2 separate regions of the Homo sapiens genome follow, and region 1 is linked to region 2. A link means that fine-mapping ties the variant in region 2 to the expression of a gene that starts in the linked region. Tissue or cell type: whole blood. Region 2 holds a variant in brackets; the other region holds the start of a gene. All regions are shown on one strand. Distances are from middle to middle.

Evidence for each region. PIP is the estimated chance that this variant, and not a neighbour inherited with it, causes the effect.
Region 1: TINCR starts here. The variant in region 2 is fine-mapped to the expression of TINCR in whole blood (TOPMed, PIP above 0.99). The same link has a PIP of 0.9 or more in cerebellar hemisphere.

The regions. Positions count from the first base shown.
Region 1 is chr19:5,564,204-5,572,373 of GRCh38, forward strand. TINCR (TINCR ubiquitin domain containing) reads right to left here and starts at 3,750. Exons shown (of 3, transcript NM_001396408.1): 1 at 3,462-3,750. The coding sequence starts at 3,721.
Region 2 is chr19:5,587,171-5,595,340 of GRCh38, forward strand. It overlaps SAFB2 (scaffold attachment factor B2), which reads right to left. Exons shown (of 21, transcript NM_014649.3): 15 at 6,721-7,008; 16 at 5,577-5,717; 17 at 4,578-4,623; 18 at 3,108-3,238; 19 at 698-810; 20 at 531-597; 21 at 1-229. The coding sequence ends at 73. Among named protein-coding and RNA genes, the nearest start is that of TINCR, 23 kb to the left of the region's middle. RefSeq lists an enhancer at 1,986-2,608. The variant G/A (reference allele first, on the strand shown) is at 4,554.

The sequences.
Region 1 (8,170 bases), 23 kb before region 2:
CCGAGCAGCCCACGCAGCTTCTCTCTCCCTAGGGTACCGTCTGCGCTGACAGGTCCCAAGTGTTTTTCTCATTTCTCACATGGGGAAGCTGAGGCCTCCCCGGCTGCTGCTGCACCATCCACTAGTAGCCCCTGCTCTGCCTCTAGAGGTCTGGGAGTGGTCTGGGGAGCTCAGAACCCATTTGATGCCCAGAGAGGGTGGGTTAGCTGCCTCGGGACACACAGCCAGTGAACAGCAAAGGCAGATAGGGGCCCCTGTCTGTTGGGGAAGACAAAGCTGGACTCTGCCATCAACCCCAGCTGTGTGTGTGGTCAGGGATGGGCAAGGGGCAGGGCATTAGGACAGGGTGGGAGCCCAGAGGAGGTTGAAACTCTCTCTTTTTTCTTTTGTTTTGAGACGGAGTCTCACTCTGTTGTCCAGGCTGGAGTGCAGAGGCACGATCTCAGCTCACTGCAACCTCCGCCTCCAGGTTCAAGCGATTCTCCTGCCTCAGCCTCCCAAGTAGCTGGGATTACAGGCGTATATCACTATGCCTGGCTAATGTTTGTATTTTTAGTAGAGACAGCGTTTCGCCATGTTGGCCAGGCTGGTCTCGAACTCTTGACTTCAGGTGATCCGCCCACCTTGGCCCCCCAAAGTGCTGGGATTGCAGGTGTGAACCATTGCGCCCAGCCAAAACTGTCTCCTCTGAAGGCTTCTGTTCTCTGCCTCCAGCATGGCTCACTGGGACCTCACCCTGGTCTCCTGTCTCCAGCCCTCCCCCCATCACAGTCTGTTCTCCCCGCTGCAGCCAGGGGTTGCCTGTGAGCATTGAGTCAGGTCCCGTCCCTCCTCTGCCCACAGCCCTCTATGGCTCCCACCTCCCTCGGAGTCAAGGCCCAAGTCCTCCCTGCAGTCCGCAAGGCCCTGCATGAACTGCCCTGGCCCCTCCCTGCCCTCCCTTCCTCCCTCTCTCCCCCTTGCTCCAGCCACACGGGCCTCCTCGCTGTTCCTCCAACATGCCAGGTGCAGTCCTGCCTCAGGGCCTTTGCACAGGCTGTTCCTACTGCCTGGAACACCCTTCCCTGACTCTCTGTTTAACCACCTCCTCCACATCATAGCCTGACATGTCACCTTTCCGGAGAGGCGTCCCCCAGTCACTGATCCCTCTCCACCTTCCCTGCATCCCCCACAGCGCCAATTGCGAGTTGACATTCTCCTGTGCTATTATTTGGCTCTAGGCTCTGTGAAGGCGAAATCTGGTCTCTCTGGGTCACTGCTGAATTTCAGTGTCCAGCATGGAGTCTGGCACACAGTAGGCACACAATAAATGCTGACTCTGTACTGCATAATTACAGTCTGGACGTCTGAGGGTCGTCCAGCCCCCAGACCTCATAGAAGGTACGCTGCCGAGAACACCCTCTCCTAGCCCCAAGCTCTGAACCTCCATCCCTCATCATCCTCTCAGCCTCCCCGTCCCCGCTAAGATCTTCCCTCAAGAGGGCCTGGGGAGGGGGCCTCTCCTGCCCCCATTGCAGCCCCAGACTCCTGCAACGGGGTGGCATCTGAGGCTCCTGCCCTCAAAACATCAACCCAGGCTCGGTGACTCAAGCCTCTAGAGGGCTGGTGAATGTGACCCCCATAAAATCCAGGGTAATTCACATGGCCCCCGTCCCTCTCCTGTTCAATGCTTCCAAGGAGGTGGTCCCAGGCTCTGAGACGAGGCCCCACCATCTTCACCACCTCTCGGCCATCCTCGACCCATTTCCCAGAGCTGCCCCAGGCCGGCAGTGAGCTGTTCCCGTGGCCCCAGCGCCCTTCTCTGCAGACCCCTCCTTGGGCCAGAAGACGCCCCACTTGAGGGTCGTCTTGGCCAGGGGACCTCTTTGGGGACCCAGATATCCAAGTGTGAGTGTGGGTAACGGACACTGGAGTGGGGCTGTGGGAAAGATAAGGCGGTAGGGAGAGACCAGAGAAGGAAGAGAGAGACAGAGCTTCAGAGACAGAGAAAAACAGCAGAGAAAAATGCAGAGACACCAGAGAGATAAAGAGACACAGACACACATGTTGAGACACAGCGAGAAAAAGAGCAGAGACCAAAATAACAGAGACAGAGACACAGAGAGAGAAATACACAGCGGGAAGAGACAGAAATGGACAGAGACACGCAGAGAAACAGAGAGACAAAAGAGACACACAGAGAGAAAAAGAGCAGAGACAGAAATGGAGAGAGACAGAGAAAGAGAGACAGAAATGGAGAGACACACAGAGGAAAGAAAGCAGAGACCAAAATGGGCAGAGACACAGAGAGAGACAGAGACAAAAGAGACAGAGACTCACAGAGACACAGAGAGAGATGCGCGCACACACAGACAGAACTGGACAGGGACACAGAGACAGAGACACAGAGAGACAGAGAGAAAAACAGCAGAGACAGAGACAAATGGACAAAGAGACAGAGAGACAGGGAGAGAGAGACACACACATACACAGACACAGAGAAAAACAGAGACAAAAATGGACAAAGAGACAAAAGAGACAGACACAGAGAGACACAAGGAGAAAAACAGCAGAGACAGAAATGGGCAGAGACACAAAGAGACAAAGGGGAAGAGAGACAGAGACACACACACAGAGGAAAAAAGCAGAGACCAAAATGGGGAGACAGAGACCAGAGAGGGAGACAGAAAAGAGAGAGGGAGACAGAGATGAGGGAGAAACAGGGAGGAAAACAGCAGAGAGAGAAGTGGGCAGAGACACAGAGTGACAGAGAAAAGAGAGACAGAGACAGAGACAATCACAGGCAACCAAATCATCAGGGAAAGAAATAAACAGAGGCAGAGATGGAGAGAGACACACAGAGAGGAAAAAACAGAGACCAAAATGGAGAGAGAGACAGAGACAAAGACAAAAGAGAGAGAGGTGAGGAGACAAAGATGAGAGACGCAGAGATAAAAGAGACAGAGACAAGAGACAGAAACAAGAGGGAGACAGAGATAAGAGATGGAGATGAGACAGCCACAAAAGAGATGAGAGAGACAAAGATGAAAGAGACAGAGATAAAAGAGAGACACAGACAAAAGAGAGAGATGAAAGAGACAAAGAGAGGCACAGAGATAAGAGTCAGAGACAAGAGACAGAAAGAAGAGGGAGAGAGATGAGAGACAGAGACAAAAGAAGAAGAGACAGAGATGAGAGACAGAGACGAGAGAGTGACAAAGATGAGAGTGACAGAGACAAAAGAGAGAGAGGCAGAAAAACAGCAGAGACAGAAACAGGCAGAGAAACAGGCACAGACAGAGAGCCCGAAAGCAAGACCTGACACCGGCAAGGCCGGGTCAGGAGAGAGGCCGGGCGGGCAGCGCGAGGTGGGAAAGCAGTGCCGGCCCGGGAGGCCGCCTTGGGCGCCCGCCTCCCCCGCCGCTCTCCAGGGGTCCCCGGCCGCCGCCCCCGCCCCACCCCACCCCGAGCCCCGCGGCCACCTGGGGTCGCTGACGAGCAGCAGCACCGAGCCGTCCTGCAGGCGCGCGTCGCGCACCGTCTGGTGGTCGTCCAGCCGCCGCGCGTTGTAGTAGAAGGCGCGCTTCCAGGAGCTCACGCCCTGGCCCACCAGCTGGGCGCGCAGGTCGCTGAGCGTGTCCCGCGGCCGCACGGTCAGCGGTAGCAGCAGCGCCTCGTCCGCCAGGTGCACCTTGATGTGGTAGCGCTTCCAGCGCGACAGCCCCCGCCGCAGCCCCTCCATGGCGCCCGCCCGGCTCCGGCTCCAGCTCTGGCCCCGGGCCCCGAGCGCCCCGCGCACCCGCCCGACTAGCCTGGCCGCCCGCCCCCGCCGCGCCCGCGCTCCGCCCGCCCGGACACGCCCGGCACGCAGTGGGCAGGCCCGGCCCGGCGGGGCGGGGCGGGTGCCACGGTCCCCTCAGGCGTCCGCTCCCCACTGCTGGCCCCAGAGTGCGCCCGGGGGTCTAGAGGCGGAGTGGCCACTCAGCACAGAGCCATCAGCGAGGTCATCCCAGCCAAGGAGACGCGCGAATGTCCAGGGGGTTACATGGTGGAGGCTCCAGGGAGGGAGGCTGGGAGGCCACTTTATTTGATCTTTTTAAGGACAGGCTGGAGCGCAGTGGCGCAATCATGGTTCGTTGCAGCCTTGACCTCCCGGGCTCAAGCGATCCTCCCGCCTCAGCCTCTCAAGTAGCTGGGACTACAGGCGCTGCCACCAAGCCCAGCTCACTTTTGTAGTTTTTGTAGAGATGGGGCCTGGCCGTGTTGCCCAGGCTGGTTTTGAACTCCTGACGTCAAGTGATTCTCCGCCTTGGCCTCCCAAAGCGGTGGGATTATAACCCTCAGCCACCACGCTCAGCCTACATTAAAAAAAAAATTTACTTTTAGGCCAGGTGCGGTGGCTCATGCCTGGAATCCCAGCACTTTGGGAGACTGAGGTGGGCGGATCACATGAGGTCAGGAGTTCGAGACCAACCTGGCCAACATGGTGAAACCCCGTCTCTACTATAAGTACAAAAATTAGCCAGGCGTGGTGGCACATGCCTGTAGTTCCAGCTACTCAGGAGGCTGAGGCAGAAGAATCGCTTGAACCCGCAGACAGAGGTTGCAGTGAGCCGAGATTGTGCCACTGCACTCCAGCCTGAGCCACAGAGCGAGACTTATCGCAAAAAAAAAAAAAAAAAAAAAAAAAAAAAAAATGGCCGGGTGTGGTGGCTCACGCCTGTAATCCCAGTACTTTGGGAGGCCCAGGTGGGCAGATCACAAGGTCAGGAGATCGAGACCATCCTGGCTAACGCGGTGAAACCCCCCCGTCTCTACCAAAAATACAAAAAATTAGCCGGGCGTGGTGGCGGGCGCCTGTAGTCCCAGCTACTCCGGAGGCTGAGGCAAGAGAATGGCGTGAACCTGGGAGGCGGAGCTTGCAGTGAGCCGAGATCGTGCGCCACTGCATTCCAGCCTGGGAGACACAGCGAGACTCCGTCTCAAAAAAAAAAAAAAAAAAGAAAGAAAGAAAGAAAGAAAGAGGGAGAGAGAGAGAAAGAGAAGAGGAAAGAAAGAATGAAAGAAAGAAAGAGAGAGAGAGAGGAAGAGAAGGAAAAAAAGAGAAGGGCTGGGTGCAGGGGCTAACGCCTGTAATCCCAACACTTTGGGAGGCCGAGGTGGGCAGATCACCTGAGGTTGGGAGATCGAGATCTACCTGACCAACACAGAGAAACCCCGTCTCTACAAAAAATACAAAAAAATTAGCCAGGCGTGGTGGTGGGTGCCTGTAATCCCAACTACTCAGGAGGCTGAGCCAGGAGAATCGCTTGAACCCAGGAGGTGGAGGTTGTGGTGAGCGGAGATCTGCCATTGCACTCTAGCCTGGGCAACAAGAGGGAAACTCCGTCTCAAAAAAGAAAAGAAAAGAAAAGAGCACCTGCTAAGTGACAGACAGTCTTCTAGGTACTTTATTGGGGTGGGGGAAGCATCTCTTACTTTTCTCATGACACTATGACTTCCCATTTTACAAGTGAGAAAACTGAGGCATAGAGAAGAAAAGAGATTTCCCAGAGGAAACAGAGAGAAAAGTGGCAGAGCTGGGATTCGAACCCAGGCCACCTAGCATTAGCAGTTTTGTTGTAATCCATTCATTACACAAACATCACTTTTTTTTTTTTTTTTTTTTTTGAGACAGAGTTTCACTCTTGTTGCCCAGGGTGGAGTACAATGGCACAATCTCGGCTCACCGCAACCTCCGCCTCCCAGGTGCAAGCAATTCTCCTGCCTCAGCCTTCCCGAGTAGCTGGGATTACAGGCATGCGCCACCAAGCCTGGCTAATTTTTTGTATTTTTAGTAGAGACGGGGTTTCTCCATGTTAGTCAGGCTGGTCTTGAACTCCCGATCTCAGGTGATCCACCCGCCTTGGCATCCCAAAGTGCTGGGATTACAGGTGGGAGCCACCTCGCCCAGCCCACAAACATCACTCTTACACAACCATGAGAGTTCAGATGGAGGTTTCTAGTTTTTATTATTATTATTACTATTTTTGAGATGGAGTCTCACTCTGTCACTCAGGCTGGAGTGCAGTGGCAATATCTCGGCTCACTGCAGCCTCCGCCTCCTGGGTTCAAGCGATTCTCCCGCCTCAGCCTCCTGAGTAGCTGGAATTACAGGCGTGCGCCACCACGCCAGGCTAATTTTTGTATTTTTAGTAGAGACAGGGTTTCACCATGTTAGCCAGGGTGGTCTCAAACTCCTGACCTCAAGTGATCTGCCTGCCTTGGCCTCCCAAATTGCTGGGATTACAGGCGTGAGCCACCACGTCCAGCCTTTTTTTTTTTTTTTTCAGATGGAGATTTTAAAGATAACTCAAACCAAATTAAATTCCAGATGGCCCCTTCAACCCTTGCCCCCAGCGAAATAAACTATACAAATATTAGGAGAAAACACAGGAGTTAAAAATAAAAATAATCTGGGCCAGGCGCGGTGGCTCATGCCTGTAATCCCAGCACTTTGGGAGGCTGAGGCGGGCAAATCAAGAGGTCAGGAGTTCGAGACCAGCCTGGCCAACATGGTGAAACCCCGTCTCTACTAAAAATACAAAAATTAGCCAGGTGTGGTGGTGCATGCCTGTAATCCCAGCTACTCAAGAGGCTGAGGCGGGAGAATCACTTGAACCCGGGAGGTGGAGCTGGCAGTGAGCCGAGACCACACCATTGCACTCCAGCCTGTGTGACAGAGTGATACTCCGTCTCAAAAAAATATAAAAATAAAATTAATCTTAACTGTGTTAAAGCATATTAAACCCAGAAACCTTTAATTAAAAGATTAATAACTGACTACAAATATAAAATTCCTACACACATATGCACATTAAAAAAATACTAGAAGATCAAAAGGCAACATCAAGGAAGAAAGTTTTCCAAAACACGACAGACAAAAGACTGATTTTCTTAATATGTAAAGAGCATCTGGAAATCAATAAGGATTAACAAGCAAATTGAAAAAGGGGTGAGAGACTGGGCACAGTGGCTCACTCCTGTAATCTCAGCACTTTGGGAGGCCAAGGTGGGTGGATCACCTGGGGTCAGGAGATCGAGACCAGCCTGGCCAACATGGTGAAACCCTGTCTCTACTAAAAATACAAAAATTAGCCAGGTGTGGTGGTGGGTGCCTATAATTCCAGCTACTTGGGAGGCTGAGGCAGGAGAATGGCTTCAACCCAGGAGGTTGAAGTACAATGCCCAGGGTGGAGTACAATGGCAACTGTGGAGTACACAGTTGCAGTGAGCCAAGATTGCACCACTGCACTCCAGCCTGGGTGACAGAGTGAGAGACTGTCTTAAGAAAAACAAAACAGGCCGGGCACGGTGGCTCACGCCTGTAATCCCAGCACTTTGGGAGGCTGAGGCAGGCGGATCCCCTGAGGTAGGGAGTTCGAGACCAGCCTGGCCAACATGGAGAAACCCTGTCTCTACTAAAAATTCAAAATTAGCTGGGTGTGGTGGTGCATGCCTGTAATGCCAGCTACTTGGGAGGCTGAGGCAGGAGAATCATTTGAACCCAGGAGGCAGTGGTTGCGGTGAGCCAACATCGCACCATTGCACTCCAGCCTGGGCAACAAGAGGGAAACTCCATCTCAAAAAAAAAAAGAAAAAAGAAAAACAAAACAAACAAATAAAAAATACTAGAAGATGAAGAGGCAACATCAAGGGGGAAAATCTTCCAAAACATGATAGACAAGAGACTGATATCCTTAATATGTAAAAAGCATCTAGAAATCAATATGGATTAACAAGCCAGTCCAAAAAAGGGTGAAAGACATGAATGGATTTTTGTTGTTGTTGTTTTGTTTTTGTTTTTGAGCAAACAGGGTCTTGCTGTTTCCCACACTGGAATGCAGTGACACAATCTTGGCTCACTGAAACTGTGTACCACCCCTCCCGGCTAATTTTCAGTATTTTTAGTAGAGACAGGGTTTCGCCATGTTGCCCAGGCTGGTCTCGAACTCCTGGGATTCAAGCAATCCTCCCACCTCAGCCTCCCAAAGTGCTGGGATTACAAGCATAAGCCACCACACATGAACGGTTTTCTGAAAAGGAAATACAAACGTCTTCTGGGCATAGGCAAGGGAGTTCATTCTCGCTCATGGTAACCTAAATATAAAAAAAAACTACCATGAAATATCTTTTTCTTCTTTTCATCTGT
Region 2 (8,170 bases):
AAGTTCGAGGGAACCCTGGCTACCAGATTCAACAGTGCGTCTGCCCACCCGAAAACTCGCAGCGAGTGGGACTTAGTAGCGGCGGGTGAAGTGGGGGTACGGGGGGGGATGAGGGTGTGGGTGAGGGACTCTGCTGCCCCGGTCCTGGCTGGCCACTCCGCCACCTTCCAGTCCGCCACCTGGCACCACGTGGCCCTGGGAATGTCCACCTTGTGCAAAGCCGCCTCGCCTAGGAACAAAGTCAGACAATTTTTTTCCCCTTGAAGTGCTCAGCGTTTTCATCGTAACATGGGTTCAGTAACGGTCCCGCAGCCTTTAGAGCGCTTGGGTTTTTTTTCCAGGTGAGAAAAATCATCATCGCACATTGTATTCCAGGTAACTCAAGAGCGTTATTTGCATAAATTGCAAAGAGCTGCTTTTTGCTTTGTTTTCATAACATCCAACCCAGCCAGCTGATCAAACATGCAAAAAAGGGAGAGGAAGTGAGGAGCAGGAGTGAACCACCGTCCTCCACGGACGACACACCTTACCCCGCCACTCCACCGCGGCTTGCCATGTGCCCCGGCCCCGAGGGCCCAGACAGGCCCCTCTCGCCACCTAGAAGAGAAGAAGGGTCTGCAAACACTCCGTTCCTGGGGAAGCCCCTGGACACATGTGGGGGCCACAGCCACCCTCGTCCCTGGAGCCAGCCCCGTACCTTGCCACCTGGCGTGCTCCCGGCTAGCCGCGCCTGCGTCCATGGCACCCTGCCAGGCGCGTGCCTGGTGCTCCTCTAGCCGCTGGTTGTGCTCTCCCCAGTCACGGCCACCCCTTTGCCAAAAGAAAAAGACATGCAGCCATCTAATGAGCCTCCAGGGTTGTGTCGGCAGCAGGCGCACCCACCCTGACCTCAGCTGCATGGTGGGTCATGCCACACAACAAGGGCTGCATGTCAAGTGGGCAAATCAAGGGAAGGGACATTTCCCCAAAGACAGATGTGCTAGTAAGCACGTGAGAAGGTGCTCAACGCCACCCAGAAATGCCAATCCGAGCCACACCGAGATGCTACCTCCCCCTGGCTGGGATGCTAGAATCACACAATAACACACACCGTGGAGGGTGCGAGGAAAGGGAAGAACCCTTGTCCACTGCTGGTGGAAATGTAAAATGGTGTGGCCACTGTGGAAAAGTTTGGTGGTTCTTCAAAAAGTTAAGCGCAGAATTACCATGACCCAGCAAACCCATTCCTACCTGCCAGAAATGAAAACATGGCCAAAGACATCTGTGCATGAATGTTCCTAGCGGCAGGATTCCTAACAGCCAAAGGGAGAAGGACCCCAACACCCATGAACTGATGAGCAGATAACACTATGTAGTGTGTCTGGACCATGGAATGTTCAGCCCTAACTAGGAAGGAAGCGCTGGCCCAGGCAGCATGTGGAGATGAGCCCTGAATACCCAAGGCTTAGGGAGAAGCCAGGCCCAGCAGGCACACCGCGCAGGCCAAGAAATGACTCAAGACGGCAAATCCAGAGCCAGAAAGGGACCTGTGGCTACCAAGGGCAGGGGGGAGGGTGCAGCTGCTAAAAGGGGCAGGGTTTCTTTTGACGTGATGAAAATGCTTCAGAATCAGCCGTGGGGATGGCTAAACAGATCCACGTACACGCAAACCTCCACTGACTGCACACGTGAAACGGGAAGTGTGTGTCGTGTGAACTATACTTAAAGAAAGCTATTTGTTTAAAGTTTCAGACAAACTCTGGGAGATGAAAATCCGAGTCCAGTGTCCTGAGTCCCAAGTGGCCAAGCAGTCACAGTGGCCGTGCAGGAAAGCAGCCAGACCCATCTGCACGAGTGCCTGCCTGCTGTGGGTTGCCGGATGCAGTGACAGTCAGGCCAAGTGAGCCAGCCCACAGGCCCGAGAGGGGCCACCAGAGCCCCCAGCGCGCACTGCCAGGCAAGTGCAATACCGCCCTGGAGGGAGCGGAAAGCTCCCGTGTGGAACCTGCCCTCGGTGACCCGATGGCGCCCAGCCGCTGCTCACCATGGGTGAGTTTCCCGTTTACACTCCCGAGGTATTTACCATAACACCCAGCAAGCGACAGGACAGGAATGCTAATGAAGTCTCACAGGAGAGAACACTTCACACCAACTGATCAGAGCACTGCCACCGTCTGTGCTGCCCAGAGATTCAGGAGAAGCTTCGGGTGTCCTGGGACACTCGGCACAGCACCGAGTCAAAGTCCCTGGCAGAGCTGGAAGTGCCTCTCAGCGCGGAGGGAGGGATGGAACGGGGGAGCACAGGGGGCCAAAACCCACCCTGTGGCGCTGGGCAGGGTCCGAGGCAGCCCTGGGCCAGGGCTGGAGACAAGACAGGACACTCGGCTCACAGAGGAAAGCAGGGCAGCAGCCGCAAAGCAGTCCTGCCACCAGCCTCCTCACGGCCAGCCCAGACGGCAACAGGACAAACAGGCAGGGGTGACTGCAGCTGGCCAAAGAAACTAGAGAGGCACCCAGAGTCCTCCCAGACAAGCCCTGCCCCCCACCAATGCTGACAAGGCTCAGAACAGCACCCCCACTGCAGTGCTGGTGAAGGTGGCTTTGGACACCTGTGGAGGACCTGGCCCAGTGTCCTCAGCCCTGAGTCCTGGGTGGAGGGTCCTCCTAAGTGATTCTAATAGGCAGGATAGGGTTGAGAAGATCCACCCCAGACCAACTGGGGGTCAGAGAAAAAACCCGAGGAAGACACGTGTCAAGAGGCAACGTGGAGGCAGGGGCGAGGCTGCTCTACCACGGACGGGGCAGGACTAAGAGCTTCAGCGCTGTCTCTCCCAGTGTGTACGCAGCCCATGATCGAGACATTCACAACTGCAGGCGACCCCCAGCTCAAGAATGGGGATGGGCCATTCTGGGCGACCTGGACAGCTCCATCCCTGAAAGCCTGTTCTATGCTTTCTTCTTGAGAACCTGGACTTTCTGAGTCAGGGGTTTCAAATGGCAGGACCCCTGGTAGCCCATCCTAAAGCTCCCCTAGCTGAATCAAACCTTGGGGACGTGCCTGGCCAGGCACCAACCTTTTCCCAGGTTAGGACAGATGCTCCCCACCCGGCTGGGGCTCACCCACTAACCTGGGGGGAGGGGGCAGCCCCCGGCCTTCACTCAGCCTCTTGTCGGAGCCGTAGCCCCCCCAGCCATCACGGGAGTCCCGGCCGTGGCGCTCTGGGGGTCCTCCGTGGCCATGGCGGTCATCTCCATAGTGCTGGAAGGCAGGAGAGGAACAGGGTGACACTGACCATGTCACCCACATAGGCCCACCTTCCGGAAGGCCTGTCCACTGCAGGCCCCAGGGTGGCAGGTGGGGCGGAGCTGAGAGAGGACTGAAGGGTGCAGTCTCAGCCCTGCTGGGCCCTGCTTCACTGACCCTCTGCTCCCTGGCTCCCCTCCTCGCACCCCTACAGCTGCATCACTGCCCCACCTGAGCTGCCCCAGGAGCCAGGGCACCCTGGCATTACTGCCCTCAACAGCTCTGCTCAAGATCCACTAAGACGTCACCAAACCCTGTCTTCCCTGAGAAGTTGGGCGCCGCCTCCTTTCCGATAACAGGAGGGCCCTCGGGTGGGTCAGCCCCCCTGTGCTCTGGCAGGGCCACAATTCCGGCCTCCCTGGCCAACCAACTCTGCACGGAGCAGCCAGCAGCCAGGAAGCAGGCGGGTGCTGCCTGCTGTTACAGGCCATTACTCTGCCGCCCACCTCCCACCTCTCCACCAGGCTGCTGCTTTCTCAGAACTCACACCCTGCCACCACGCACGGGGCACCCGCATGGCACCACAGAGACTCAGGGACCATTCTTGTGGTCTTCAGCCCCCCGTGCCCACCAAGCACGGACTTGAAACATGGGGAAGCCCGGGCTCCCCCATCCCCCCGACCCTGGCACATGTGGGCTAAACGACAACCACCATTTGGGTTCTTGGGGGACCCCACAGGCACTAAGACCCAAAGGCTCCCTGAGCAAGTGGACAATGAAGAGACACATGAGGTTTCTACCGGATACAATGAAGAACAAGCCCAACATATTTGAAAATGACAGAAACTTGAGCATTACAAAACAATCAAATATTTGCGCTTTTTTTTTTTTTTTTTTTTTTTGAGACGGAGTCTTGCTCTTGTTGCCCAGGCTGGAGTGCAATGGTGCGACCTCGACTCACTGCAACCTCCGCCTCCCGGGTTCAAGCGATTCTCCTGCCTCAGCCTCCCGAGTAGCTGGGACTACAGGCACTCGCCACCATGCCTGGCTAATTTTTTGTATTTTTAGTAGAGACAGGGTTTCACCATGTCGGCCAGGCTGGTCTTGAACTCCTGACCTTGTGATCCACCCACCTCAGCTTCCCAAAGTGCTGGGATTACAGGCATGAGCCACCACGTCCGACTAAATATTTGTACTTCTAGTCGCTGGCCAGAACCCACACTTGCATACCCGCCACACGTGCTGACTTGGTTGCCACCTCTCTGGGATCAAGCGGCCGCCTGGCTAGAAATGGTCCGCTATGCCTGCACAGCAGTACAGTGGCCCCAGG[G/A]CTTGGCATCGGGGCTCTACTCACCTGCCCATCCCGGTGGTCTCCCATCATTGGCCTCGAACCCTCCCGCCTGCAAAAGGAAAAGATCCCGTTCAAACAGCACCAGGCACGACTACACATTTCTGCAGGTCAGGCAAGTTTCGCGACTGGGATACTTTTTCCATCCCATCACATAAAAACTATAACTGGCCTGGGAAAAAAGGAAAAAGCTAGCTCAAATCGAAAGGCTTTTCCCCGGGGGCAGAAACGAAGTTGGATCCTAAAGAGGTAGGAATAAAGATCTCACTGAACTAAAATTCCTCGGGGAGCTCTCAGTTAGGGGAACAGGGACAAACAGAGGCCTCCAATGATCCCTCATCTTTGGTCTGACCCAATGCGTGGGACTCATCAAAATTCACACCAACTCCACCCCAAACTCCAGCAGAATTAAGAGTGTGGCCTCTCAGCCTCCCTTTCCTGTTCTCCCCGCTCTGACATTCCGACTGAAGGAGCCAATGAATGGGGAAATGGGTCAGAGATGTGCAGCCGAGGGGAGCCCAAAGACAGGATTCTTACACTGGAAAACCAAGGGCTGCCTTTTTAATAAACTAGATGTATTCCTCATTTTAAAAGGCTAAAAAACCCACCCAGACCCTCGAAATACAAAACAGGCCTCATGAGAAATTTTGCACGTCCTCCATCAATTCTCTGGTAGCTCTTGGGCACAACCAGGTTGTGCTGACAAACACTGCTGCCTCACAAGAGAGCTCAGTGTAGATGGCCTGCACTCAGGCCCCTCCTGGCCCACCTATGAAAAGAGTCGGTGGATGGAATGAGCTCTGAGATGCCTTCCTCTGAGGTAAGCTGGGGATTCCAGCAACTCGCTCAAGTTCTGTGCAAGGCCAGAGTCATCCACTGTGGATCTCAGAAGTAAACGAGGCTTCAGAGCACACAGGAACCCCTGCACTGGGCTGAGAACGAGGTCAGCTGGATGCCCCGGTGCCCACAATGACTGTAGCTAAAGGAGGGGACAAGACCACTGACCTGTCGATGGCGTGGTCCTGGTACTGGCCCCGGTCTCGATGATCGAAGTCGTGAAAGCGGTGGTCTGGCCGGGGAAAGTCTGCACGATATCGGTCCTCCATTGCCACACGCTTTCCTTCTGGCCAATAGGCATCATCTCGTCTGTTGGTTTTTATTTTAAAAGAATACAAATTCCATTAATGAGAGAGGAGGAGGAAAAAAGGAGGAGGTGGAGGTGGGGAGGGGAGCTCTCTCCCCAGACCCAGTATCGTTTAAAATGTCCTGCAGGGCTAATCTCTAAACATTCGATCATCATTGCTTTGATCTGATAAATTAAAACCGCCATTAACAGCCGAGAGGCACACTTGTGTTCTCATCCAACAGTCCCAAAAGGAGCACTGCTGTGAGCTCATTGTCTCGTGAGGCTGTTATTACCTTGATCCCCCCTCATGAGCAACTGAAAAGAAATATTTGATTCTTCTGGAATAGCATTCGAGTTGCCACACTTTTACTTTCCCTGCCTTCCACGGGAGCCTGAATCTCCCTCTGAGTTTCTTGCAAAAGCAAAGAGAATTAGATGGGGTGATAGTGAACTACACACAGCTCTGGACGGCATCCAATTATCTTCTTCCTGATTTTTACCAGAAAACTAGGCTCACGGAGAGCGGGGTGAAGGGTGACTGTCAATTAAGCCGCCTGGGGTAGCTAGAGACCAATAAACCTACTTTCTAAATCAGAGGCAATTTCCTTTTCCACAGCGCCTGCTCTGCCTCTCTGTCTACAAGGACACATGAGACCGGCAGAGTCAGCGGTGGCCAACTTGGGCCTAACGGGCGTTCGGTTGTCTCGCAAGACAGAGAACAGCTATGCTCCACGGGTAAGTGGAGAGGAAAAGCATCACAAACCCTTCAGCAAGTGGCAGCCATCAAGTTTCCCAGAATAACTCAAGTTCAGGAAGATGCTACACAGCCTCCGGTGAGGACAGCGAACTAATAAACCTGCAGCAGCGCAGTGAGATCGGCGGGGGGTCCCCAAGGCGCATGCTCCATATCAAATTTCATTCTCCCCACCGACAGGGACGGAAGGGAAGCCGCTGTTCTGCTGGAAGGGTGAACACCGCTGCCACGCTGGTCTCCGTCCTGCCCACGCTCTGGGCGGGACTCACCGGTCCAGGTCGTAGGGCCTCCGCCCGGGCCGCCGCTCCTGCTCGTAACGCAGCTGCTCCTGCTGGCGCCGCAGCTCCTCGCGCTCGCGGTGGATGCGCTCCTGCTCCTTCCTGCGCTCACGCTCCACGCGCATGCGCTCGCGCTCCAGCCGCTCCCGCTCCATGCGCTCCCGCTCCAGCCGCTGGCGCTGGCACTCGAGCTGCAGGCGTTCCCGCTGTAGCCGGGCCTTCTCCTTCCGCTCATGGAAGGCCTCGAGGCGTTGCTCCCGCTCCCGCTGCTCGCGCTCCCTGCGGGGACAGGTGAGGCTGCCCTGAACTCCCTGCGTGAGCCTCCAAGGAGAAAGCCCGGTGCCCAAAACTGGGTGTGTATTGGAAGCAGAAAAAAAAAATGGATCCAAAAGCTCACCGGGCTTCCCTAAAGCTGCGCGTGCAGGGGGTTACCTTACTTAACAAAGCTACCTTAAGAAAAGCAAAGGCAGCACAGCTGGCAACATTTCTAGGTTTGCTCGAGAACATTTTCCAAATGCTGTGAGCACAGCTTTTGCTTTACTGAGCAATATTTGAGGAAAAGTGACAAGAGAACGCCGGGCATCCCGACATGAAAAGGCCGAATGTCAAGGCAGAGGGACAAGCCTCCTTCAAGACCACAGCCCAGAAGGGAGCCGCGGCAAAATGACAACTGGACTCTGCTTGCAGTTTCTGACCTTAGGTGAAAGGTTTCAACAGGGAAGACAGGCCTCAGCACCCAGGCACCATCCCATCCCATCAAAGCCACACACGGCTGGGCCTTCCACACGGGCCAAGGTCCAACATCAGAGGAGGGGCGAAAATAGACTTTGAGCCAGCAGAAGGCTCAGCCTGTAATCCAGCACTTAGGGAGGCTGACGCAGGAGGATCGCTTGGGCCCAGCAGTTATCAGCCTGGCAACATAGCCAAACCCCATATACTGTAAAGGGCTTTGATGACTTCTTTTTAAGAGACAGGGTCTCACTCTGTCACCCAGTCTGCAGTGCACTGTTGTGATCACAGCTCACTGCAGCCTTGAGCTTCTGGGCTCCAGCAATCCTCCCACCTCAACCTCCTGAGTAGCTGGGACTACAAGTGCACGCCACCATGCCCAGCTAATTTTTAAATATTTTGTAGAGGTGGGGTCTCGCTACATTGCCTAGGATGGTCTTGAACTCCTGGCTTCAGGGGATCCTCTGGCCCTGGCATCCCAAAGTGCTCGGATTACAGGTGTGAGCCACTGCACCTGGCCCTTTGATGACTTTCATGCCACCTGGCATGTCTGGCGGCTCACGTGTGAACAGGTGCTGGCCCCTGCCTCGAGGACCCAGGTTAAGCACGACACCCGCCAGCCCAGGCACTGGCTCTCGGGCACACAGACTGCGCACTCCAAGTACAGCTGGGAGAAGGACAGCCACCCCGAGAGGAAACCACCAGCCCACAG